Linked DNA regions of Homo sapiens. The protein of the gene in region 4 purifies or fractionates together with the protein of the main gene of each other region. This does not show direct contact. Each region holds a gene or a part of one and is shown on either strand. Other genes may lie near its edges. The genes, in order: GTF2H2C, UBE2B, STAT5B, SEC24A, TUBB6, FGL1 and TTC1.

Evidence for each region.
Region 1: the proteins of SEC24A (region 4) and GTF2H2C fractionate together in Homo sapiens (co-fractionation; one large-scale study listed by BioGRID). This does not show direct contact.
Region 2: the proteins of SEC24A (region 4) and UBE2B fractionate together in Homo sapiens (co-fractionation; one large-scale study listed by BioGRID). This does not show direct contact.
Region 3: the proteins of SEC24A (region 4) and STAT5B fractionate together in Homo sapiens (co-fractionation; one large-scale study listed by BioGRID). This does not show direct contact.
Region 5: the proteins of SEC24A (region 4) and TUBB6 fractionate together in Homo sapiens (co-fractionation; one large-scale study listed by BioGRID). This does not show direct contact.
Region 6: the proteins of SEC24A (region 4) and FGL1 purify together in Homo sapiens (co-immunoprecipitation; one large-scale study listed by IntAct). This does not show direct contact.
Region 7: the proteins of SEC24A (region 4) and TTC1 fractionate together in Homo sapiens (co-fractionation; one large-scale study listed by BioGRID). This does not show direct contact.

The regions. Positions count from the first base shown.
Region 1 is NC_000005.10:69,587,691-69,591,190, reverse strand, and holds part of GTF2H2C (general transcription factor IIH subunit 2-like protein), read right to left. Parts: intron 864-3,500; coding exon 824-863; intron 1-823. UniProt on the Homo sapiens protein: Component of the core-TFIIH basal transcription factor involved in nucleotide excision repair (NER) of DNA and, when complexed to CAK, in RNA transcription by RNA polymerase II.
Region 2 is NC_000005.10:134,381,569-134,385,068, reverse strand, and holds part of UBE2B (ubiquitin-conjugating enzyme E2 B), read right to left. Parts: intron 1-3,500. UniProt on the Homo sapiens protein: E2 ubiquitin-conjugating enzyme that accepts ubiquitin from the ubiquitin-activating enzyme E1 and transfers it to a E3 ubiquitin-protein ligase. In vitro catalyzes 'Lys-11'-, as well as 'Lys-48'- and 'Lys-63'-linked polyubiquitination.
Region 3 is NC_000017.11:42,213,892-42,217,391, forward strand, and holds part of STAT5B (signal transducer and activator of transcription 5B), read right to left. Parts: coding exon 3,486-3,500; intron 3,392-3,485; coding exon 3,269-3,391; intron 2,216-3,268; coding exon 2,123-2,215; intron 712-2,122; coding exon of another isoform or gene 691-711; exon of another isoform or gene 641-690; intron 1-640. UniProt on the Homo sapiens protein: Carries out a dual function: signal transduction and activation of transcription. Mediates cellular responses to the cytokine KITLG/SCF and other growth factors. Binds to the GAS element and activates PRL-induced transcription.
Region 4 is NC_000005.10:134,662,285-134,665,784, reverse strand, and holds part of SEC24A (protein transport protein Sec24A), read right to left. Parts: intron 1-3,500. UniProt on the Homo sapiens protein: Component of the coat protein complex II (COPII) which promotes the formation of transport vesicles from the endoplasmic reticulum (ER).
Region 5 is NC_000018.10:12,318,241-12,321,740, reverse strand, and holds part of TUBB6 (tubulin beta-6 chain), read right to left. Parts: intron 1,206-3,500; exon of another isoform or gene 1,079-1,205; coding exon of another isoform or gene 997-1,078; intron 1-996. UniProt on the Homo sapiens protein: Tubulin is the major constituent of microtubules, a cylinder consisting of laterally associated linear protofilaments composed of alpha- and beta-tubulin heterodimers.
Region 6 is NC_000008.11:17,892,725-17,896,680, forward strand, and holds the start of FGL1 (fibrinogen-like protein 1 precursor), read right to left. Parts: upstream 2,801-3,956; 5' UTR 2,723-2,800; intron 2,681-2,722; exon of another isoform or gene 2,501-2,680; intron 1-2,500. UniProt on the Homo sapiens protein: Immune suppressive molecule that inhibits antigen-specific T-cell activation by acting as a major ligand of LAG3. Responsible for LAG3 T-cell inhibitory function. Binds LAG3 independently from MHC class II (MHC-II).
Region 7 is NC_000005.10:160,061,139-160,063,590, reverse strand, and holds part of TTC1 (tetratricopeptide repeat protein 1), read right to left. Parts: intron 50-2,452; exon of another isoform or gene 1-49.

The DNA.
Region 1 (3,500 bases), about 65 Mb from region 4:
AGGCAGAGGTTGCAGTGAGCCAAGATTGCATCACTGCACTACAACCTGGGTGACAGAGCAAGAGTCTGTCTCAGAAAATAAAACCAAAAAACTGTCAAATGATTCAAAAAGTGGTTCCAGTTAAGAGTAAACTACTGATGTCAAAGAGGTATATAAAATTTAATAAAATTACTTTATAAATTGTGACAGTGGAAGAGCAATACTTCTAATTATTATTTTATATAATATATATAGTTTTAAATATGAACATGTAACTAAATTAAAAATTAAAGCTAGACAGTGATCCATATTATTTACATCTATACAAATTTATTTATTAAAGTTGGCCCTCTTCAAAATTTAAAAAAGTATTTTCTCATTGGCATAATGGAAGAATCACCTATTATCTGTGGCCACCTTAAACAATTTCAATGTGTTATCACACAGCTTAAAGTATAATATGAAGAAAATATTTTAAATACTTTCAGACTAAATGCAGTTTAGCTTGAAAGCTAAAGACAAATTACATGTTTTACAAGGGTGTACCAAAGTAGACAAAACAATCAAAGAATTTAAAAAAAGAGGAAAAAAATTAAAAAATTTTTAATAAAAAGTTTTAAAAAGATGAATTACAAAATACTTTATAGCAAAAATTAGAATGCAGAATAACAAAACTACTATTTAAACTATTTTGTTCCTATTTTACCTTCACCTATTGTCATTATCTTTACAAGAAATAAACTGATATGAGCCTGGTCTTTAACAACCTGTTGAAAACTTATAGTACCATTGATTTCAATATTTCTTGTACATTACTTAATATTTAGAAAGCCAAAGAACTTACATGTTGGTCTTTCAATTCCCCCTGACATCCATAACAAAATCTGAAAAAAAAGTTTAACAATGTTTTTTCTTAGAATTTACTCATTAAAATAGTTCAACAAAATCTCACTAACTAGAATCCTTTAATTAATATGTACTTGTCTTTACACATGACTTTCAGGAAAAAGAGTTAAGAATACCAATAGGCCAGGCACAGTGGCTCACGCCTATAATCCCAGCACTTTGGGAGGCCGAGGCGGGTGGATCACCTCAGGTCAGGAGTTCGTGACCAGCCTGGCCAACGTGGCGAAACCCCGTCTCTACTAAAAATACAAAAATTAGCTGGGCGTGATGGCAGGCGCCTATAATCCCAGCTACTCAGGAGGCTGACGCAGGAGAATCGCTTGAACCCAGGACACGGAGGTTGCAGTGAGCCGAGATGGTGTCATTGCACTCCACACTGAGCAACGGGAGCAAAACTCTGACTCACAAAAAAAAAAAAAAAAAAAAAAAAGAATAGCAATAATTTAAAAAAAAATTCCACAGTATATACAAGGTCATCTGACAGCCCAAAATTTAGTTTTTATTTTCATTAAGGTTAACTGTGAGCATGCTTTATTTTTCTTTGTTTTCGAGTCAGGGTCTTGCTTTGTCTCAAAGGCTGGAGTGCTGAGGTGCTATCACAGCTCACTGCAGCCTCAACCTCCTGGGCTCAAGTGATCCTCCTGCCTCAGCCTCCTGAGTAGCTGGGACTACAGGCATGTATCTCCATGCCTGGCTAATTTTTTATTGAGGCAGGGTCTCGCTATATTGCCCAGGCTGGTCTCGAATGCCTGGGCTCAAGCAATCCTCCTATCTTGGCTTCCCAAAGTGTTAGGATTACAGGCATGAGCCACCATGCCCAGCCAGAAGCACTTTCTAACGTTTGTTTGATAGTCACTTATTCTAATAAGTGCTACTTTGTGATTCTTCACAGTTATTGGCTATAAATCTCCAACTATGAAAGAAGAGAATTTAATTATCTTTCAATCATCTTGAACCCAGTAATGCATAAATATTTAACTAGTGTCATTCTCAATTCTTTCTACATAGTGAAGTCTTCCTTTTGGATAGAACAATAATCAATGTTTAGTTTACTATGCCTATAAAAATATTCTCAGCTAAGCCATAAGTTTTCCCCTATTTAAAACATTTTTTTTTTCCTGGAAATACTGTGTTGCTATTCCCAAGGTTAGTTTCCTATATAATTGACACTAATTCAGGCCCAATCTTCTCCGGAATAGTCTAACTGTCCTCTCGATATGTTCAAATACATCAGGAGTTCTGCAGTTTTCATCCCCTTGGTGATCTCTCTCCTGGAGCATCCTGACTGTCTCCAAACTGGACGGTTCCCCATATGTGACACACAGGTATCATTCTGGAATTTCTCCTTACCATCATCCTAGGCCGTTCTTCAGCCTGTTTTGAATTAGATACATATTACTAGATCCCATGTCATTCTCCTTCTCAGTTCCTTTGAATCACCTACCTCTTCCAGACCTTCCCCAGAAAAATCTCTTTTTGAGACCTTACAAGTCTGAAAATGTCTTTATTCTACCTACACTTAACTGATAGTTTGGCTGGGTATCTAAGTTGGTAACAATTTTCACCACAAACTTTGAAGGTGACTGCTCCCTCTCTGCATCCGGTGTTGCTAATGAGAAGCCAAACAATTTTAATTCCAGATCCTTTGTGTGTGACCTAGTTTTTCCTCTCTGGAAATGTTTAGGGTTAATGGTTTATTGTGTATTCTGAAATTTCACAATTATGGGGTCTGCCTTCCTTCAATACGTTAGGCACTTGGCAGTCCCTTTCTTTTATCTTCGTTGCAGAGATGAGGTCTTGCTGTGTGACCCAGGCTGGCCTGGAACTCCTGGCCTCCAGTTATCCCCCAGTCTCAGCCTCCCAAAGTGCAAGGATTAGAGCTATGAGCCACCCTTCCCAGCCAACAGGCCCTTTCAATCTAGAAAGTTCTGTCCTTCAATATAAAATTTCTTTGAACTATGTCTTTGATGATTTTCTATCCTACTTTTTTTCTTTTTTTCTCGTATCATTCTCATATTGGACCTTCTGGATAATTCCACCAGTATTCTTATCTTTACTCTCCTATTTGAACCTCTTTATTTTACTCCTTTTATTGTACTTTCTGGAATATTTCTTCAACTCTATCTTCTATAGTACTGGGTTTTTCATTTTTACTACATTTAACCTCAACCATAAGCAAATAAATACCAAGCTAAAACAATGAGACTTTTTTCTTTTTCTTTTGCCTGTGAGTTTTGGCCAATATAAAAAAGTTTCATAATACCTAATGTTGGCTAAATGTGGGAAAACAATAAATGAAACTTCTTTGAAGAACAACTTTACAATATCTATCAAAATTCACAAAACATGTAAAACTCTTGACTCAGTAATTTTACCTCTAGGAATTTACCATGCATTTATACTTGTACAAATGTTCAAAAATATAGATATAAGCATTATTTGTTAATAGCAAAAAAAGAAAATCTTAAATATCCAACAGGAAGCAATTGATTATATAAACCATAATTATACCTGAAATATGCAACAATTTCAAAAACAACATTGATCTAGATATGGTGATATTGAATGACTTCTAAATGACTTAAGTGTGAAAAGCAAGATGGATACATAATTGT
Region 2 (3,500 bases), 280 kb from region 4:
CATACAGTGGAATATTATTCAACAATAAAAAATGAATCACAGATACTATTATATCACAACATAGATGAGCCTTGAAAACTTTATGCTGGGTGACAGAAGTCAGTCACAAAGGACCACATAGTATAAGATTCCATTTATATGAAATATCCAGAATAGTCAAATCTAGAGGGAAAACACGTTAGGGGTAACACTTACCTAGGACTGAAGCGGGGAGGGTTAAGACAAACAGAGTTGACTGCTAAGATAATAGTTATGGGGCTTTTTGTTGTTTTTAAAGTGGTCATGGTGATGGTTATGATTATGCTAAAAACCATTTGAGTTGTACAATTTAAGTGGGTCAACAGCTTGGTGTGTAAATTATATTTCAATAAATGTTTTTAAAAAAATAAACCAGAAAGTTAAATTATAAAAAAGTACTCAGCAGAATAAAAGGGAAACCATGCTATAAATATGAAGAGATGTGAAAACCAAATACACTGTGGTTTCTTAAAAATTTGCTTAAGTGATAACCCTATATTTATATCCCTTACTCATTCTACAGTCTTTCCCACCTTTATTTAAAGACCCCCTTATCATAATTGGTTTGGTTTGACTCAATAACAAGTCTAAGCAAGATAAAGCTACAGTGGAATAAATGGTAAATGACCTGGGAACTTCCCCAAAAAGAGAAACAGAAAATAAAATTAAACCTGTCTTGGACAAAAAAAAAAGCAAAAAAGGCAGCTAGAAGGAAAAAGCAACTTCACAGAAATGAAGTGCCAAAGGTAGTATCTATTACTGGAAAGTCACCTTGATTCCAGACACAAACGAAACACATCTCTCCTCTGGGTAGGGAGCTCTATAATGTATTCTGCAGTACTAGAGACACGACCAAGAGGACCTCTGAAAATGTTCTTCCTGAAAGTGAGTTGGCTGATGGGGAACGCCACATTTAAATGAGCAAAGGCTGTGAGACTGAAGAGGAGCTTCAAGAATTTGGAGAAGTCTTTCACATGGTAATTTATAATACAGAAATATAAATGTAATAGATGTAAACAGCAAGATGTCAAGGAAGACCAAATTTATTACAAAGGAATTAGCCATCGTTTAGTGAAGAATAGTAACAAACTACTCTATGAAGTGAAAATGAGAACAATTCCACTGAAGGAAAAAAATGGAAAATGACATTAAAAGCTTTAAAAACACACAAGCCTCTGACCCAGTAATCCCCACGTTTAAAAAACTTAGTCTAGTTGTTATGCAGCAATTAAAAAAACAAACAAAAAACTCAATCAAAATAATAATTAGTATCTGAAAAGATTTATTTTGAGGCCGGGCACGGTGGCTCACACCTGTAATCCCAACATTTGGGAGGCCAAGGCAGGCGGATCACCTGAGGTCAGGAGTTCAAAACCAGCCTGGCCAACATGGTGAAACCCCGTCTCTACTAAAAATATAAAAATTAGCTGGATATACAGCTTTGGGAGGCTGAGGCAAGAGAATCACTTGAACCCAACAGGCAGAGGTTGCCGTGAGCCGAGATCATGCCACTGCACTCCAGCCTGGCCGATAGAGCAAGACTCTGTCTCAAAAAAAAAAAAAAAAAAAAAAAAAAAGCTGGGTATGGTGGCACACATCTGCAGTCCCAGCTACTCAGGAGGCTGAGGCAAGAGAATCACTTGAACCCGGGAGGTAATGGTTGCGATGAGTCGAGATCACACGACTGTACTCCAGCCTGTGTGACACAGCAAGTGTTTTTCTCAACAACAAAAAAATTTTTAAGATTTTTAAGAATGTTCAAAGTGCTATTTAAAATTGTAAACAACTGAAAACTATCAACAATTGGACACTGGTTAAAAATATGATAAATCTATGTAACAGAACATTTTGCCATTAAAAATGATGTATCAGAATATTTATTTTTTTGAGATGGAGTCTTGCTCTGTTGCCAGGCTGGAGTGCAGTGGCGCGATCTTGGCTCACTGAAACCTCCGCCTCCCGGGTTCAAGCAATTCTCCCGCCTCAGCCTCCCGAGTAGCTGGGACCACAGGCATGCGCCACCATGCCCAGCTAATTTTTGTATTTTTGGTAGAGATGAGGTTTCACCACGTTGACCAGGATGGTCTTGATCTCTTGACCTCATGATCCACCTGCCTTGGCCTCCCAAAGTGCTAGGATTACAGGCGTGAGCCACTGCACTCAGCCCAGAATATTTATTAAGGAAAATGTTCACAGTATATTAAAAAAACAAAAACAAACAAACCAAAAAAAACACCTTATTTTATATATAACATCCCAATTTTCTTTTTTTTTTTTGAGATAGGGTCTTGCTTTGTCACCCAGGATGGAGAGCGGTGGCACAATCATGGCTTGCTACAGCCTCAACCTCCCAGGCTCCAGCAATTCTCCCACCTCGGCCTCCCTAGTAGCTGGGAATACAGGTACGCACCACTGTGCCCAGCTAATTTTTGTATTTTTTGTAGAGACAGGGTTTCACCATGTTGCCTAAGCTGGTCTTGAACTCCTGGGCTCAAGCAATCCACCCTCCTCAGCCTTCCAAAGTGCTGGAATTAATAGGCATGAACCACTGTGTGTGGTCATTGACTCCAACTTTGTATATGCAAAATTGTACTTTTGAGATAGAATCTTGCTCTGTTGCCCAGGCTAGAGTGCAGTGGCACAGTCATGGCTCACTGCAGCCTTGACCTCCTGGGCTCAAGTGATCCTCTCACCTCAGCCTCCATAAGTAGCTGAGACTACAGGTGTGCGCCACCATGCCTTGATATTTTTTTTGTTTTTTATAGGGATGGGACCTCGCTATGTTGCCCAGGCTGGTCTCTGACTCCTGGTCTCAAGCAACCTTCCCACCTTGGCCTCCCAAGGTGCTGGGATTATAGGTATGAACCACCACGCCTGGCCAAAATTGTATTTTTGAAAAGCTTAATTTTAGCCAACAGATTTTTCTTATTTTTCACAATTCCACAAATAAATAGATAATACTTTTATCTATTTCTTTTAGTAGAGACAGGATCTTACTATGTTACCTAGGCTGGCCTCAAGCCACCCTCCTGCCTTAGCCTCTGGAGTAGCTGGGACTACAGGTGTGCACCACTGTGCCTGGCTTACATATTACCTTTGTTTTTTTGGAGACAGAGTCTTGGTTTGTCACCCAGGCTGAAGTGCAGTGTTGTGAGCTCAGCTCACTGCAACCTCCGTCTCCCAGGTTCAAGTGATTCTCCTGTCTCAGCCTCCTGAGTAGCTGAGATTACAGGTGCCCACCATCATGCCTGACTAATTTTTGTATTTTTAGTAGTGATGGGGTTTCACCATGTTGGCCGGGCTGGTCTCAAACTCCTGACCTCAGGTGATCCGCCCACCTTGGCCTCCCAAAGTGCTGAGTTTATAGGTATGAGCCACCATGCCCGACCATGTATTACTTTTAATTCAGGAGTTATTAAAACAACTTGACCTCAAATTTGGAAGCTTTGTAAGAGTCTAGCTACAGAAACATAGCTAAAGGC
Region 3 (3,500 bases), on a different chromosome or scaffold from region 4:
AGCACTTTGGGAGGCCGAGGTGGGTGGATCACTTGAGGTCAAGAATTCGAGACCAGCCTGGCCAACATGGTGAGACCTGGTCTCTACTAAAAATATAAAAAATTAATTGGGCGTGGTGGCATGCACCTGTAATCCCAGCTTCTCGGGAGGCTGAGGCAGGAGAATCGCTTGAATCCAGAAGGCAGAAGCTGCAGTGAGCCGAGATAATGCCACTGTACTCCAGCCTGGGTGACAGAGCAAGACTCTGTCTCAAAAAAATTAAAAAAAAAAAAATAGCATAAGATGTAAGTAGTCATTAACATAGCTGAGAATGTTAAAAATGCTTATTTATTTAGACAAGATACTTGAGTAATTACATGGTGCAGGAGATGCCAAAGGTACACAGAGAGTGAGATCTGTGGACAGGCAGGGAAGGAAACAAGAGATGTGGCAATCTTATCTAGGAGGCTTATCAGGACAAGAGGCAGACAGACAGTTTCAAAAAGGAGCTTCTGATTCAGAGTTTGTAAGTGAAGTATGGTAAATCTCTTAAAAATCTCACCTTTGCAGTAAAATACTTTTTCTCTAAAGAGGAGTGTTGGGAAACGTTAAGCCTCTCCACGTGAGCCAGAAGGTTCCATTTCACCTTCTTTACACACAACTGGAAGGTAACCCATGCTGTCCATGCTGTTTTGTAAATGAGCTGTTGAACTAACAGTCAAATCCTATATTCTAACAGCCACAAAACAAAACATAATCAAGGTTTGTTGGATATACTTAGAGAAGGACATGCTCTTATGTCCCAAATGATAACCCTTTTATCATGCTTTTATGGACTAATCTCTATTGGAAATATGTAACAAATGACCTTTGCCTACTAAAAAAATTTTTTTCTTTGAGACAGGGTGTCGCTTTGTCACCCAGGCTGGAGTACAGTGGCACAATCTTGGCTCACTGCAGCCTGGACCTCCTGGGCTCAGGCGATCCTCCCGCCTCAGCCCCCCCCAAGTAGCTGGGACTAGAGGCTGGTGTACCATGCCTGGCTAATTTTTTGGTATTTTTTGTAGAGACAGGATTTTGCTATGCTGCCTAGGCTAGTCTGGAGCTCAAGGGATCTGCCTGCCTTGGCCTCCTGGAGTGCTGGGATTATAGGCATGAGCCACCGCACCCAGCCTATGAGATCTTTAAAATGCTCATCGAGCAGCATGCTAGTGGGATTCAGATAGCGTTTGGGTGCATAAATCCACCAAATTATATCTTCCTTGAGGCAAAGTATCTCATTCTTCATGAGACCTAGAATGAATCACAGAAACTAAAATTTGGAAAAGACATTTAACAGCATCTTCATTTATTGAAAGGAAGAGGGTATGAAGCAACTTCTATGCTAAAGTAAGCCTCTGGAGAGATCTAACCTCTGGAGTGAACCTAGGAGTCCCAAATCCCATTCATAGTTTCACCCAAGGATTCAAAATAATATTTACTGAGTACTGACTGTGTGGCAAGCATTTTCTATGTTATCTAATTTAATCTTCCTAACAATGCTGTAGAGCAAGAGTATCCCTGTGCTGCAGACACTTGCTGGAAACTCAGGCTCAGAGAGGTAAAGTGAACTGCCCATGTGGTCATGGAGTGAGGAAATGGTGGAGTCTCAGTTCAAACCCTGGCCCGATGTCAAGCCCATGTTCTTTCCACTTTCCACATTCTTTCTATTCTGCCTCCCACTAAAGAAAACAGCGTCTTTTTTCCTATGCTTTTTTTTTATTATTGAGATGGAGTCTCACTCTGTCACCCAGGCTGGAGTGCAGTGGTGCGATCTCGGCTCACTGCAACCTCTGCCGCTCGGGTTCAAGTGATTGTCGTGCCTCAGCCTCCCAAGTAGCTGGGACTACAGGCATGTGCCACCACACCCAGCTAATTTTTCGGTATTTTTTAATAGAAACAGGATTTTGCTATGTTGGCCAGGCTGGTCTCGAACTCCTGACCTCAGGTGATCCAACCGCCTCGGCCTCCCAAAGTGCTGGGATTACAAGTGTGAGTCACTGCACCCGGCCTTTTCCTATGCTTTTTAAAAGGATAATACATAAATGAGATTCATGACACCGGCATTGATTTTGGGACCCACATGCCCGAGGAATACACTCACAGGCTCTGCAAAAGCATTGTCCCAGAGAACAGTGGCCGTCGCATTGTTGTCCTGGCTGCCATGAACGATCACCACCACTGGCAGGGACAGGGTCTAAAAAGACACAAGAGAAGGCTGAGCGCCCACGAGCCTCAAGTTCTTCTCCTTCTCTCTTTTTTTTTTTTCTTATTATAACAACACTTTTATTTTCCAAGTTTCAGTTAATGTTCCTCTCAGACACAGAATCTAAATGGCCCCAGGAATAATATGACTTTTCATACTGGCACAATCTTAGAAATTTTAAATATTTTACAAGCAATGTTGCTTAGATATTTCTGAAGGATAAAGTTTCTCAAAGTTACATGGAGAACAGGAGAGAGAAAAGACTATTGGAGATATTTCTGGGAAGAAAATACAAATAACAAATTTAAAACTTACCACAACCTTTACTCAAATTCATCCCAAGTAATGTTTCTCATATCCATTTTGTAGTCTACCTCTCCAGCTAGTTCAGTTCATTATTGTTTGTTCATGTTTTATTTTTTATTTTTTAATTTGTTGTTGTTGTTGAGACGGGGTCTCACAACCAGCTCCAGGCTGGTCTGGAACTCCTGAACTCAAGCAATCCTCCTGCCTTGGCCTCCCAAAGTGTTAGGATTACAGATGTGAGCCACTGCACTGGGCCTTGCTTGTTCATGTCTTTTTTTTTTTTTTTTGAGACAGGGTCTCACTCTTTCACCCAGGCTGGAGTGCAGTGGCACAATCTCGGTTCATTACAACCTCAGCCTCCCAGGTTCAAGTGATTCTCCTGAGTAGCTGGGATTATAGGCACGTGCCACCACGCCTGGCTAATTTTTGTACTTTTTAGTAGAGATGGGGTTTCACTGTGTTAGCCAGGCTGGTCTTGAACTCTTGACCTCAAGTGACCTGACTGCCTCAACCTACCAAAGTGCTGGGATTACAAGCATGAGCCACTGTGCTTGGCCTCTGTTCATGTCTTAAGAGAACCTAAGTGAAACAGTTCTCAGGGTGAGGTCAGTCCATTTTCAGTTTACCAACAGTCAAAAAGAAGAAGATGCTATGTGATAAAAAAAAAATATTTTGTAACATAAAGTACACCACACACACACACGCACACGCACACGCAGAGCTGAGGGAAGGCTTTACCTTGACTTGAAAAACCAGCTCATTTCCACCAACACTGAACTGGGATTCAAACAGGATTGTAAATTTTTCTTCTGTCACCGACTCTGCCCCACGACGGTCTGACCTCTTAATTCGTTTCAGGGACTACAAAGAAGAAACATAAGATGAAACGTAAGATATAAGTTGTTCCCCTCAAAGACCAGGGAAAAATTCATTCTTCCTCTTCTTCCACCCTCACCATATTCCTGAAGTG
Region 4 (3,500 bases):
AGGAGTTCAAGACAAGCCTGCCAACATGGTGAAACCCCATCTCTACTAAAAATACAAAAAATTAGCCAGGTGTGGTGGTGGGCACCTGTAATCCCAGCTACTTGGGAAGCTGAGGCAGGAGAATCACTTGAACCTGCGAGGCAGAGGTTGCAATGAGCTGAGATCTCGTCACTGCACTCCAGCCTGGGCAACAAGAGCGAGACTCTGTCTCAAAATAAATAAATAAATAAATAAAAATAAAAATAGGGGGCCAGGAGCAGTGGTTCATGTCTATAATACCAGGACTTTGGGAGACCGAGGCAGAAGGAACACTTTTTTTTTTTTTTTCTGAGACGAAGTCTCACTCTTGTCCCCCAGGCTGGAGTGCAATGGCGCAATCTCGGCTCACTGCAACCTCCGCCTCCTGGGTTCAAGCGATTCTCCTGCCTCAGCCTCCGGCAGCAGCTGGGTCCACAAGTGCGCGCCACCACGCCCGGCTAATTTTTGTATTTTTAGTAGAGATGGGGTTTCACCATATTGGCCAGGCTGGAGGCTGATCTCAAACTCCTGACCTCGTAATCCACCCGCCTCGGCCTCTCAAAGTGCTGGAATTACAGTCGTGAGCCACCACGCTCAGCCTGAAATTTTTCAAAATGTTTCACCAATACTGTTAAATACTCCAGTATCAAGTTGAAAAATTGCCTATTAGGCTGGGTGCAGTGGCTCACGCCTGTAATCCCAGCACTTTGGGAGGCTGAGACAGGTGGATCACAAGGTCAGGAGTTTGGGACCAGCCTGGCCTATATGGTGAAACCCCGTTTCTACTAAAAATACAAAAAATTAGCTGGGCGTGGTGGCGCATGCCTGTAATCCCAGCTACTAGGGAGGCTGAGGCAGAAGAACTGCTTGAACCTGGGAGGCGGAGGTTGCAGTGAGCCGAGATTGCGCCACTGCACTCTAGCCTGGGCGACAGAGTAAGGCTCCGTCTCAAAAAAAAAAAAAAAAAAAAAAAAGAAAAAGAAAAATTGCCTATTACTGAATCTTACAACTGCTAACAAGACTATCAGTGCCTTGTTGACAAAAGTGAAGACAAAGATTATTGCCATGTAACTCCCTTATCAAAGAAGTGGTCACACATATCTATGGCAGTATAGACAAGTCAAAGGAACAAAGGGGCAAGGTACATGGCCAACTCAGCATGAACAAGAATGTAAAATACATCTGGCCACAAAGATGTAACCTACAACCTAATGTTTAACGAATAAAAGTAAACTTACAGAGATTTTCACAGCTTTTAGAAGACTATTTTTGAACAGATAATCATATATTTCATAAAATGAACATTTTTTCAAGTTGAAGAATTCTTATTTACGACACTGATAGCTAGAGTTTCAGAGTCTGCCCTCTCAGCCCCTAAATGAGTATAATGATGCTTAAAGGTGACCTATTAAAAAAATTCAGGAAAATTTAATATATGAACTAAAAACTTAGTATAACCTAAATACTCACAGCTTTGATACCAGACTATCAGGTACCAACTCTCAGTTATGAGTTGGAAAAAAGAAAAAAAATGAGGAATTTGAAGGTTCTTTGAAGGTTCAAATGAGAAAAAAGAAGGTTACTTTTTAGGTTCATTTTATTAGTTTATATGTTTTTATTTCCCCTTCTTTCATAAGTTTCAGCACTTTTTTTTTTTGAGATGGAGTCTTGCTCTGTCGCCCAGACTGAAGGTAGTGGTGCAATCTCAGCTCACTGCAACCTCCGCCTCCCAGCTTCAAGCGCTTCTCCTGCCTCAGCCTCCTGAGTAGCTGGGATTACAGGCACGTGCCACCATACTTGGCTAATTTTTGTATTTTTAGTAGACACGAGGTTTTCACCATGTAGGCCAGGCTGGTCTCGAACTCCTGCCCTCAGGTGATCCACCCGACTCAGCCTCCCAAAGTGCTGGGCTTACAGGCGTGAGCCACCATGCCCAGCCTCAGCACTTATTTATGTCTCTCTCACCAAATCTGTAGTGGAGACAAGGTGCTCTGAGGGTTTCTATTATAGCTAAAGAAATTTCAGATTATTGATAATGTACCTTTTTAAGAGAAGCTACACCTACTCTTAGTATTTATTTATTTTTAAATAAAATTATTTAAAAAAATAGAGATGGGGTCTTGCTATTTTGCTCAGGCTAGTGAACTCCTGGCCTCCTGGCCTCAAGTGGATCCTCCTGCCTTGGACTCCCAAAGTGCTAGGATTATAGGCGTGAGCCACCACGCCTGGCCCTTAAATAGTTTTTAAATAAATGTTTTCCCAAACTATTTTACTGTGGCTTTGGGCAAATTATTCAAGTCTTATACTTTAGATCTGTAAGAGACTGTTACGAAGATTAAACAAGATAATGCAGGCCTGGCTAGGTGGCTCACACCTGTAATCCCAGAACTTTAGGAAATCCAGGCAGCAGGATGGCTTGAGGTCAGCAGTTACAGCAAGCTATGTTGCAGTTAAGTGAGCTATGATCGTGTTACCCTACTCTACCCTGGGCGACAGGGTAAGACCCTGTCTATACAAAAAAATAAAGAACAAAAGATTAGCCAGGCACTGTGGCACGCCTACTCAGGGAGGTGAGGCGGGAGGATAGCTTGAGCCCAGCAGTTTGATGACACTAGGATTGCACCACTGCACTCCAGCTTGGGAAACAGAGAGACAGCCTATCTCTAAAAAATAAAAAGCAAAACAGAAAAACAGATAATGATATCAAAGTTTGATAGAGCCTGGAAAATAATATAGATAACATTTTTTTTAACACTTAAATTTTTTTTTTAGACCAAGTCTCACTCTGTCACCTAGGCCGGAGCGCAGTGGCACAATCATAGCTCACTGCAGCCTCAATTGCCAGAGCTCAAGCAATTCTCCCACCTCAGCCCCCCGAGTAGCTGGGACCACACATTCATTCATTCAAGTGATTGATGTGTGCCACCATATTCATTCATTTCAAGTGATTGATGCTCACTCATGGTATCAAATGAATTAGAACAAAAGTAACATGAAGGATTTTAGCTCTACTAATTGCAGGTCAGAAGATTTCCACAAAGAAACTTAAGTTTCTAGAAGCAGCTTTAATCTTTACAAGGCCAAAATGCATTCACCAGGGCCAATGTCTGATCAAAGGCTTGGAAAAATAAAGTTTCAGCCATTAACAATTTACAAGCCTGATGGAGTATATGCCATATAAACATACATAAGGTTAAAAAGGTAACTATTGATATTACTATTTCACTTGGAAGCCTACACTATTTCATAAACTTGAGGCTGTCTGCTGAGAAGTATCAACCTGCAGATCCCAATACAGAATTTTAAATGCTTTTCAAAGAAATATTGGCTCACACCTGTAATCACAGCACTTTGGGAGGTCAAGGCGGGCGGATCACGAGGTCAGGAGATCGAGACCATCCTGGCTAACACGGTGAAACCCCGTCTCTACTAAAAATACAAAAAATTAGCCGGGCGTGGTGGCGGGCACCTGTAGTCCCAGC
Region 5 (3,500 bases), on a different chromosome or scaffold from region 4:
AACTAATTCAAGTCATAAAAACTTGCATTGCATTATACAGACCTCTCCCCACTTACTCCAACTTGACTTTTGTCTACACACGGCTGGTGGCAACAATTCACAGCCACTGCCAAAGACCAGCCTCTCTGGTTTCACGTGGGCAGGTCCATCCCTGATGCTGCACTCACCCTGGGGGCACTGAACTATGAAGCAGTGAAACCACCAAGGCTGCCTCTGAGAGCTGCCAAGTGCTACATCGGGTAAGCAAGCTGCCTTTCACTTGTCAATCTTTAATTAGTGGACAAGGGGCTCCCATGCAATTTGGGACACGGGCCTGCTCACAATGAGGTCTACTGATGGCACCCCTGGCTTCTGCAGTACATAACAAGTGCAGCCTTACACAGTGGCTCTACTCTTGGGGGGGATGAAGCATTTATCAGTGCTACACACTGTAGGTGTTCAGTGCAAGAAAAAACAAATTCTGTGATTCTTCATTAAGTGTACTGAACTTAATGTTAAAATGTATGTACTGGACTGTTAATAACTCATATCACATATAAAGGATACCCTCCTTCAATATCTAAAGAAGTCCTTAAATCAGTAAGAAAAACAACAGCCATTAGGAAAACAGGCAAAGGCTATAAACATACAGCTCACAGGAAAGGAAATTCCAATAGCTTAGGTACTGGAAATAATGCTAAACCCTTCTCATAAGGGAAACGCAAATTAAAACAAGGAGATTCTATTTTTCTGCTGTGAAACTGACAGAGATCCAAACACCTGAGTTGCACTGCTGAGGGTTTGGGGAAGGCCACTTCCCACGGGAGCTACTGGAGATAGCAAGGGCAGTGGGCTGTAGAACAGCTGAGCTACAGCTATCAAAATTATCCCCCTAGACACAGCAATTACACTTCTGTAAGTTTTTCTAGATAGACCCATACATGTGCAAAATGACATATATACAAATGTTTACTGAGGAACAATTTATAATAATAAAAAGGGGAACAACCCAAATACCTATCAACTGAAGACTGGTTAAATCCACGGCGGTATCTCTGCAGAGGATACTATCAGCCATCAACAGGAATGAGGCAGCCATACTTGTGAAATGGAAAGATCTTCAAAATACGTTGCTGGGGAGCCAGGGAGGAACACTAGGGTACTAAACAGTGTATACAGCTGGCTCCATTGTATGTGTGTAAATATATGCGTCTGCCTGAACATACCTGAAAGGACATTCAAGAATCTTAACACTAGTTCGGGGTAGGAAGGAGATCAACTTTTCACTATATACCCTTTTGTTCCTTTTAAGTCCTAAACCATGAAAATGTTTTACCTAGCTAGCTAGCAAAATGAAAAAAAAAATTACTTTATTAAAACATTTACAATGCAATTAAGAAAGCACAGGTTGTCTTTGAAGGATGGGGTCCTAAGAGAGTTCATTTCTAGCTTTATGACATTTTAACTAAAACATTTATTTTATGATAAGTGAATATTAAAGTATAAAAAAGGAATTTTTTATTATTATTATTTTAGAAATGGGGTCTTCCACTGCTACCCAGGCTGGAGTGCAGTGGTGCAATCATAGCCACTGCAGCCTCCAACTCCTGGGCTCAAGGGATCCTCCTGCCTCAGCCTCCTGAGTAGCTGGGACAATTAAAAAAACATTTTTTTGGCTGGGCACGGTGGCTCACGCTTGTAATCTTAGCACTTTGGGAGGCCGAGGCGGGTGGATCACGAGGTCAGGAGATTGAGACCATCCTCGCTAACATGGTGAAACCCCGTCTCTACCAAAAATATAAAAAAAATTAGCATGGCATGGTGGCGGGCGCCTGTAGTCCCAGCTACTCCGGAGGCTGAGGCAGGAGAATGGCGTGAACCCGGGAGGTGGAGCTTGCAATGAGCTAAGATCGCACCACTGCACTCCACCCTGGGCGACAGAGTGAGACTCCGTCAAAAAAAAGAAAAATTTTGTAGAGAGGGTCCCCTTATGTTGTCCATGTTGGTCTTAAACTTTTGAACTCAAGTGATCATCCTGTCTTGGCCTCCCAAAGTGCTGGGATGGCAGGTGTGAACGCCTGAGCCCAGCTCTTCTTTAATGAAAAATTTTAAAATGTCATCAGTAAGTGGGAAATTACTAAATGATGACATATACAATGGTAGGCACTGTGACTGTCACGGAGGATGTCTGAGATACATTAATGAATTTTTCAAAAGGCTGCAAAATGGTGTGTATAGCAGGATCCCATTTTCCCCAGACAAAATCAGCTCTGTGTGCTCACCTAGGTGCACATGGACACAGAAAAATGTCAGCAGGGCCGGGCGCGGTGGCTCACACCTGTAATCCCAGTACTTTTGGGAGGCCGAGACAGGAGGATCACCTGAGGTCAGGAGTTCGAGACCAGCCTGGCCAATATGGGGAAACCCCATCTCTACTAAAAATACAAAAAATTAGCTGGGTGTGGTGGCAGGTGCCTGTAATCCCAGCTACTCCAGAGGCTGAGGCAGGAGAATTGCTTGAACCCAGGAGGTGGAGGTTGCAGTGAGCCGAGATTGCGCCATTGCACTCCAGCCTGGGCAACAAGAGCGAAACTCCGTCTCAAAAAAAAAAAGAAAAAAAAAAAAAAGGAAAAAGGAAAAATGTCAGCAGGACACAGCACAACTGTCTACACACTCGGTTATCCCCCTAGGGAATAAAACCTCAGGGGCCACCAGTAGAAGGGATGACAGCTTTCCCTTTCTGCACTGTATACACAATCTATGTGTACTGTTTGAAAAAACCATGTACAAGCACTTTGTTTTAACTTTGACATGAAAACATTAAACACTTTTTTTTGTATAAGACCAGCTATGGGAGCTCACACCTGCAATCCTAGCACAGGAGGGTGAAGTGGGAGGACTGCTTGAGCCCAGGAGTTTGAGGCTACAGTGAGCTATGATCACACCACTGCACTCCAGCCTGGGTGACAAGGCGAGACCCCATCTCAAACAAACAAACAAACAAAACCACACATTTAAATATTGAACACTGAAGTTTCCAGAGAGCAGAACTGGCCAGCTGAAACTGACCACAGAGGGCCCTTGCACTTGTCTGCAGCATCAGCCTCCCTAGATCTCCGTCTCAGTCCCACTGAGAAATCAGCTCAGCCTTTCTCTCCTATTGTCTTTGCCCCATTTGGCAGTCCAAAGCCCAGTGTCACTGGCATGGCAGGCCCTATGGCTCTGCAGAGGGGCCGGGCTAGGCAGATGCCTGCTGTGTGCTTGCAGCACACCCCGTGGGCCTGGCCACTTTAGTACTCTCAGGTGGCCGTTTCCTTGTGTTTTTCACAAGCCGTAGACAGCATCTAGTATGTGACTGTTCTCTTACAAACAGGGGATTCTCTTCTTCCTGCCCAGCTGTGTTGCACAGTGAATCCTAGCTGACTGCCTTCTCTTAGTAGGCGAGAAAATGGTCACCGTCCTTCCTAAGCCCCCACCAACTTCTCTCCACCCCTTCCCCACCCAACCTAGCAGGCAGCACC
Region 6 (3,956 bases), on a different chromosome or scaffold from region 4:
ATTATTTTAATCCGCTCCCAGATAATATTCAGGAGTCAAAAATTAAAAATCATGAAATGTCTGTATCTTCTAGACTTTGCTTTAATGTTATTTGTTGAAAAATTTTTTTATTTGATTAAAGTTTTCTTATGCATTTGTGGGATCAAGTACTTTATTTCAGAAGTGAATAAATTAGCTTAAAAAGTTAGAGCTTAGCCAGGCGTGGTGGCTCATGCCTGTAATCCCAGCACGTTGAGAGGCTGAGGCAGGCAGATCACTTGGGTCAGGAGTTTGAGACCAGCATGGCCAACATGGCAAAACCCCGTCCCTACTAAAAATACAAAGAAATTAGCCAGGTGTGGTGGCACACACCTTTTATCCCAGCTACTGTGTTGGTTGAGGCATGAGAATTGCTTGAACCTGGGAGACAGAGGTTGCAGTGAGCCAAGATCACACCACTGCACTCCAGCCTGGGTGACAGAGTGAGACTCCATCTCAAAAAACAAACAAACAAACAACAACAACAAAAAACACCTAGAGCTTAAAAAAGAAATTTTCTCATTCCAATGTTTGATTCTGGCTCTTGCATAAATGGAAGTATGTTTTGAAAATGCTCTGAATGATGCACCTATATATCATATAATTTTACCTACGCACACTGTATATATACGTATATGTATGAACATAACATTATTATACATAATATGTATATATTATAGATTATATTATATATACATTATATAAGGTATATAAATATTGCTTAGCATTAGATTTAGTAAAAAATAAAGGGCTAATGAAATTTTTTTGACAGGCCTCTGTCTCTTGATGTCCTGAAATGTTTATCTCACTACCATTAAGATAATCCAATAATCAAAAAGGCACCCCCTAGTCTGGTAGCATATAAACAATAAAGCATTTCAAAATGTAATTATTTACATTTAGAAAGTCATTATATTACTTTGATTAGCTTTAGAATAATTCCTGAGAATATCTTAAGTTCTCTAAAATTTTCCATTTTCCTCCTTTGCAATTCTAACCAACATTCTCTGTAATATTGAAGAAATGCTAAGCATTAAGAAACTTGCTTTGAAATTCTGGTCTCCATCATTCATTATAGTAAACCATTATTTCTTCTGCACATCTGGCTTACAGTAAAGTTGTATCAAATTATTCTGTTCATTTATTGCACAATTAGTTGTATTTCTTTTATAATATTTTTGCCTTAGGCAGTATCAAAACTTTTAATTATTATAAAATTAAAATTGTTATCAAATGGCTGTTCTTTGGTGGACTATATTATTTTACATAATTTTAATGCTATAAATTCTAATTCCTTCCCCACTATATTTAAAAAAAATTTAATTAATTACGCTGCATTAAATTTAAAGATGAAGACATTAAATTTGTAAATGAAAAGTTCTAAAAATAATATATAATTTTTAAAAACAATTACAAAACAGAAGTACATTAGTAGCATGCAAACATTTCAAAACTGGTATGTTTTAAGCAAGCATTGTAAAAGGATATATAAAAGAAATAAAAAGGAAGGAAAAAGTTATTGAACGAAGTATGTTTAATAAGTTAGCATTCACAAACGCTATAGGACTATAATGCTTAGGACTATAACCTAAGTCAGTGAGTTAAAAATGTACCCATAAACACAAGCTTAGAGACTCCTTTTAAGCTATTTCCTTCCAAATTTTTTCCTCTTTCTGAAAATGGAATATAACTGTGCTTTTGTATTTTTCTTAAGAATCCATACTCACTGAAAGCCTTACAAAGCTAAATATAGTTGATCCCTCAAGAAATGCAATAAAGAAAAATGTTTCTGAAGTTTTTTGACTTCTGAAGTGAAAATTGTCATATAGTCCATTTTATTTTTAATTTTTTATACTGAAACTGTAAACCTATCATTTACGTCAAACTCCCATGCAATTCATTCAAAATGTAAAGGAAATTATACAAAGTGAGACTCCATCTCAAAAAACCAACAAACAAACGACAACAACAAAAAACGCCTAGAGCTTAAAAAAGAAATTTTCTTATTCCAATGTTTGATTCTGGCTCTTGCATAAATGGAAGTATGTTTTGAAAATGCTCTGGGTGATGCACCTATATATCATATAATTTTACCTGCGCACACTGTATATATATGTATATGTATGTACGTAACATTATTATACATAATTATGTATATATTATAGATTATATATACATTATATAAGGTATATAAATATTGCTTAGCATTAGATTTAGTAAAAAATAAAGGGCTAATGAAATTTTTTTGACAGGCCTCTGTCTCTTGATGTCCTGAAATGTTCATCTCATTACCATTAAGATAATCCAATAATCAAAAAGGCACCCCCTAGTCTGGTAGCATATAAACAATAAAGCATTTCAAAATGTAATTATACATATTTAGAAAGTCATTATATTACTTTGATTAGCTTTAGAATAATTCCTGAGAATATCTTAAGTTCTCTAAAATTTTCCATTTTCCTCATTTGTAATTCTAACATACCTTATTTGTATATCTGTATATTTGTATATCTGTATATCTGTAACAAAAGATACATAATTCTAAATCTCTTCTCCAAGTAGCAGAAGCAGACTCCTTGCTAGTCAACCTGACTTCTTGCAAAAGCTAATGGTTGTTACCTGAGTTTTGGTTACTATCATACCTGTGAAATAAATTAGCATTATTACAAGCATGTCAAAAATGCAGAGACATTAAATAACTTGCCTAAAGTCAGAAGTGAGTCAGAGACCCAGCTCAGGTTCCATCCAGACACTCTGCTTCCCAGGATCCTGTAACTGCATTGGGAATTTGTAATTATTTCTCCATTATTTGATTAGAAATAGGGACAATGTTGATTCTGGCTTCAATCCAGAAACAAACATGTGGACACAGGTTTAACTGAAAGAAAGCTAAAAGAGAAGATTCAAGGACAAATCCCAATACTCTGATATTTTTCTTTTTTCCCCACTTGTATGACTTTTTGTGAAAGATCCAATAATATATCTTTATAAAGATATATATATTTTACAACTTATTATTATGTTCATTCAGAGAATTTTTGTACTGTAACTTCAATAATGTTCCATTGAAGATTAAGTAAAAACGAAGTCCAGCTGAAACTTTGCTTTGTATTAAGGGTAATAACATTTTACCCACAAAAATATGAATTAATATGTCATCTCAACTAAAATATGGAGATAAGCCAAATTTTTCCTAGTTATAAAAAACAAGGCAGGTTAATAATTGCCAAGGTGAAATGGTCAGTTTATTTGCTCTCTAAGAAAAACAAAAGTATTCCCTGAGGTGCAAAATTGTGAAATTTAACTGGAAGCATCGATTATACTCTGGACAAGTTGTTCCTTTTGTTTTAAAATCCTCTAGAAGATTTTCTAATGTGTAATAGGCACTTGTTAGCTCCATTAATCGTATTGTGTAACAGTTTCTTACTGGAAATCTGGGTTCATCATTTCTTCTTTCCTTCTGATGTAACTCAAGCAGTTGTTTGCCATTTGTCCTGTGGTCCCTATTTATTCACTCAGATTCCAGTAAAATACCAAAGTTTTGTTTTCTTTCTGTTCTTTGTTATCTACTGGACTTGAGCACTGACGATGTTTGGTCTTCCCATTAAACATCTTCCTGTCCTTCACGTGGACATTTTGAAGATTATTAAGGGAAAGGTAATCCTGTTGATTTACTGGAAAAAAGAAGGAAAAAAAAAGCCAGTTAGACTGAAGTGATTTGCACACACACAGAAGAAGTGGAAATTATACATTCATAATTGTAGAGAATTCAAGCTGCTAATGTTAAATTTCAAAAGCAAAAATATGGGATTATTCGGCTAATTCAATAATGATCTCTGTGGTAAAATGACATATTTTGAAATACAAACTTATCTTTCCTTCTTGTATGCCTTTAGCTTTGTCCCCATTCAAGCAATAATTTAGCCTTGTGTTCATTT
Region 7 (2,452 bases), about 25 Mb from region 4:
TTAGCAGCTTTTCTCACTCTGAGGCCTCCCATCTTAGAGTAAAGCCCAGGTAAAGAACTTAAAGGTGCATGGCCTTGGCTGGGTGCAGTGGCTCACACCTGTAATCCCAGCACTTTGGGAGGCTGAGGCAGGAGGATCATGTGAGCCTAGGAGTTTGAGACCAGCCTGGGCAACATAGGGAGACCCTGTATCTACAAAAATTTAAAAATTAGCTAGGTGTGGTGGCACACACCTGTTGTCACAGCTATGCAGAGGCTGAGTTAGGAGGATTGCTTGAGCCCAAGGAGTTCAGGGCTGCAGTGAGCCATGATCATACCATTGCACTCCAGCCTGGGTAACAGAGCAAAAAAAACGCATGGCCTTTACATTTTACAGGCCTCCCTAATAACTCATGGTGAGAACTTTTAGTCTCAGGCTTAAGAACTAGCCCAAGGAAGCTCACTATGTCCAGAGAAAGGCCAACCCATCTTTGGATAAAACAGTAAATTGAGAAAGCTCCCAGAACCTGGGATGGCTGTTCTCCAGGCAGGCCTCCCAAACCTAAACCTGGGACACACACGTTCTGTGCTGCTGCTTGTGTCAGGAAATCACTGGCATAAACCCTGGGTGCCTGCACAAGGCAGCGGCACAGCCTCGGGCACATGGGCGTAGAGGGAGGGGCTCACAACAAGCAAGAGAAAGACAGGGCAGCCTCAGGGTGACCTGAGTTAGCAACACCAACCAGGAACGCTGGCAGTTTGTTCTGGGGTTGGAAAAAGAGGACAGGAAGGGGGAAAAAAAAAACCATCAAAAGCAGCCCAAGAAAATGTTGGTACTGGGAAATCCTTGGCTCTTGTGATATGGAGTGAGTGAAGTGAGAATGAGTATCAAGAGCCACTCACATCAGACTCCTGAGGAGGGGCAGCTCCATGGTGGAGAAGCCTACTCTGGATGGTCCACTGAGCCCAGGGCCATTACATGGATGGAGGGATCACTGCAAGCCCATCTCCAGTGCCAGAAAAACAATTTAAAGTACAAACTGGAAATTTTACTTGGCATCTATCATGTAAGCCACTGGGATGTAAAGAATAAAAGTAGCTTCTATGCACAATGCTCAGTCTAGTGGGGAGGCAGACCCAAAAGACGGAGGTGTGCCCAGAGGTGCTTTCTGACCTTGCAGTGGCACGAAGAGGCTACATGCCACAGTGCTCCGGGGGATGGGAATAGGTCCAGGGTGGTGGCATGTCACCGTGCTCCAGAGATGGCAGCTTCCTCAGGCAGCAATGGCTTGGCTTTAGGCTGGTCTGCACTAAAGGAGGTTTCCCTCTAGTGCAGAAAGACCATTCCAAGCTAAGACTGCAAATATTCAAACTGCCGACGAGAGGAAGAATTCTCTTTCCCAGGCCCTCGTTTTGCCTAACTGGCTAAAGGGCCTGTGTGCCACAAGCCACCTTTGAACTTTTAGCTTGGTTGATTCTATGGTGTGGCAGTCATGAAGATGTATTTCTCCAAATGCAGGGGACAGAGTGGCTGCACTCTAAAATCCATCAGCACATTCATGCAGAGGCCACCCTTCCCACCTGCTGCTTCCAGCCAATGCCTGAGCATGGGAGGGACTCGTCTGAGGGGCAGCACTGGCTCCCCAATGGCTTTGCTGAAACTTTCTCAGCACCACACTCCAGTGGAAAACTTCCCCGCTCCCCCGGCCTTTCCTCCTCCACAGGGGTCTGCCAACTCTGCCAACAGCCTCCAGCTCCCAGCCCCATTTTCCCTTGCAGGTGTTTCCCCCAGTAAATCTCTTGTACTTTTAATCCTATCTTGGCATCTGTTTTTTGGATGACCCAAACTAACACATAGATAATTATTCTTTTTCCTTCAATTCCAGTATCTCTGCCTTTATAACATTTCACATTAGTTTCACCGACCATCACTTAAGGGGGAAAAAAAAAAAGAAAATGCGAAATTCTGCTTTCTAAATGAGATTACATATATATAATACCTGGCAGGTAGTAGACACATAATAAAAGGCACACAAATAAATAGTCTCTGCGTTAGAGAAGACCTAAGGTCACCTGACATAGATTAATTCAACCAACATGTACTAATTACATGTGTGTGGCACCTTGCTATGTGTGGTAGAGATGCAAAGATACATGACATGGTCTATACACCAAAACAAGCTTAGAATTTGACAAGGAAGAAAAGACATACACACAAAACCAAATTCATATGTAGCTGAGTTATAAAATGCTACGAGAGTCAGGAAGGGGAAGATTCCTTTGGCTGGGGCAGGAAGACAGGAAAGGGGTGGAGGAAAGAAGAGATTTGGTCTATCTTTGTCTAAGAGTTTACACTTGAACCAGGCACCAAAGGCCATAGGACTGCAACCATATGAGACAGAGGTGCTGTCCGTGCAAGCCCAAACAGCGTGAGCCAATGCACAGAGATAGGCAGGCGAGCTGTGTGTCCAATG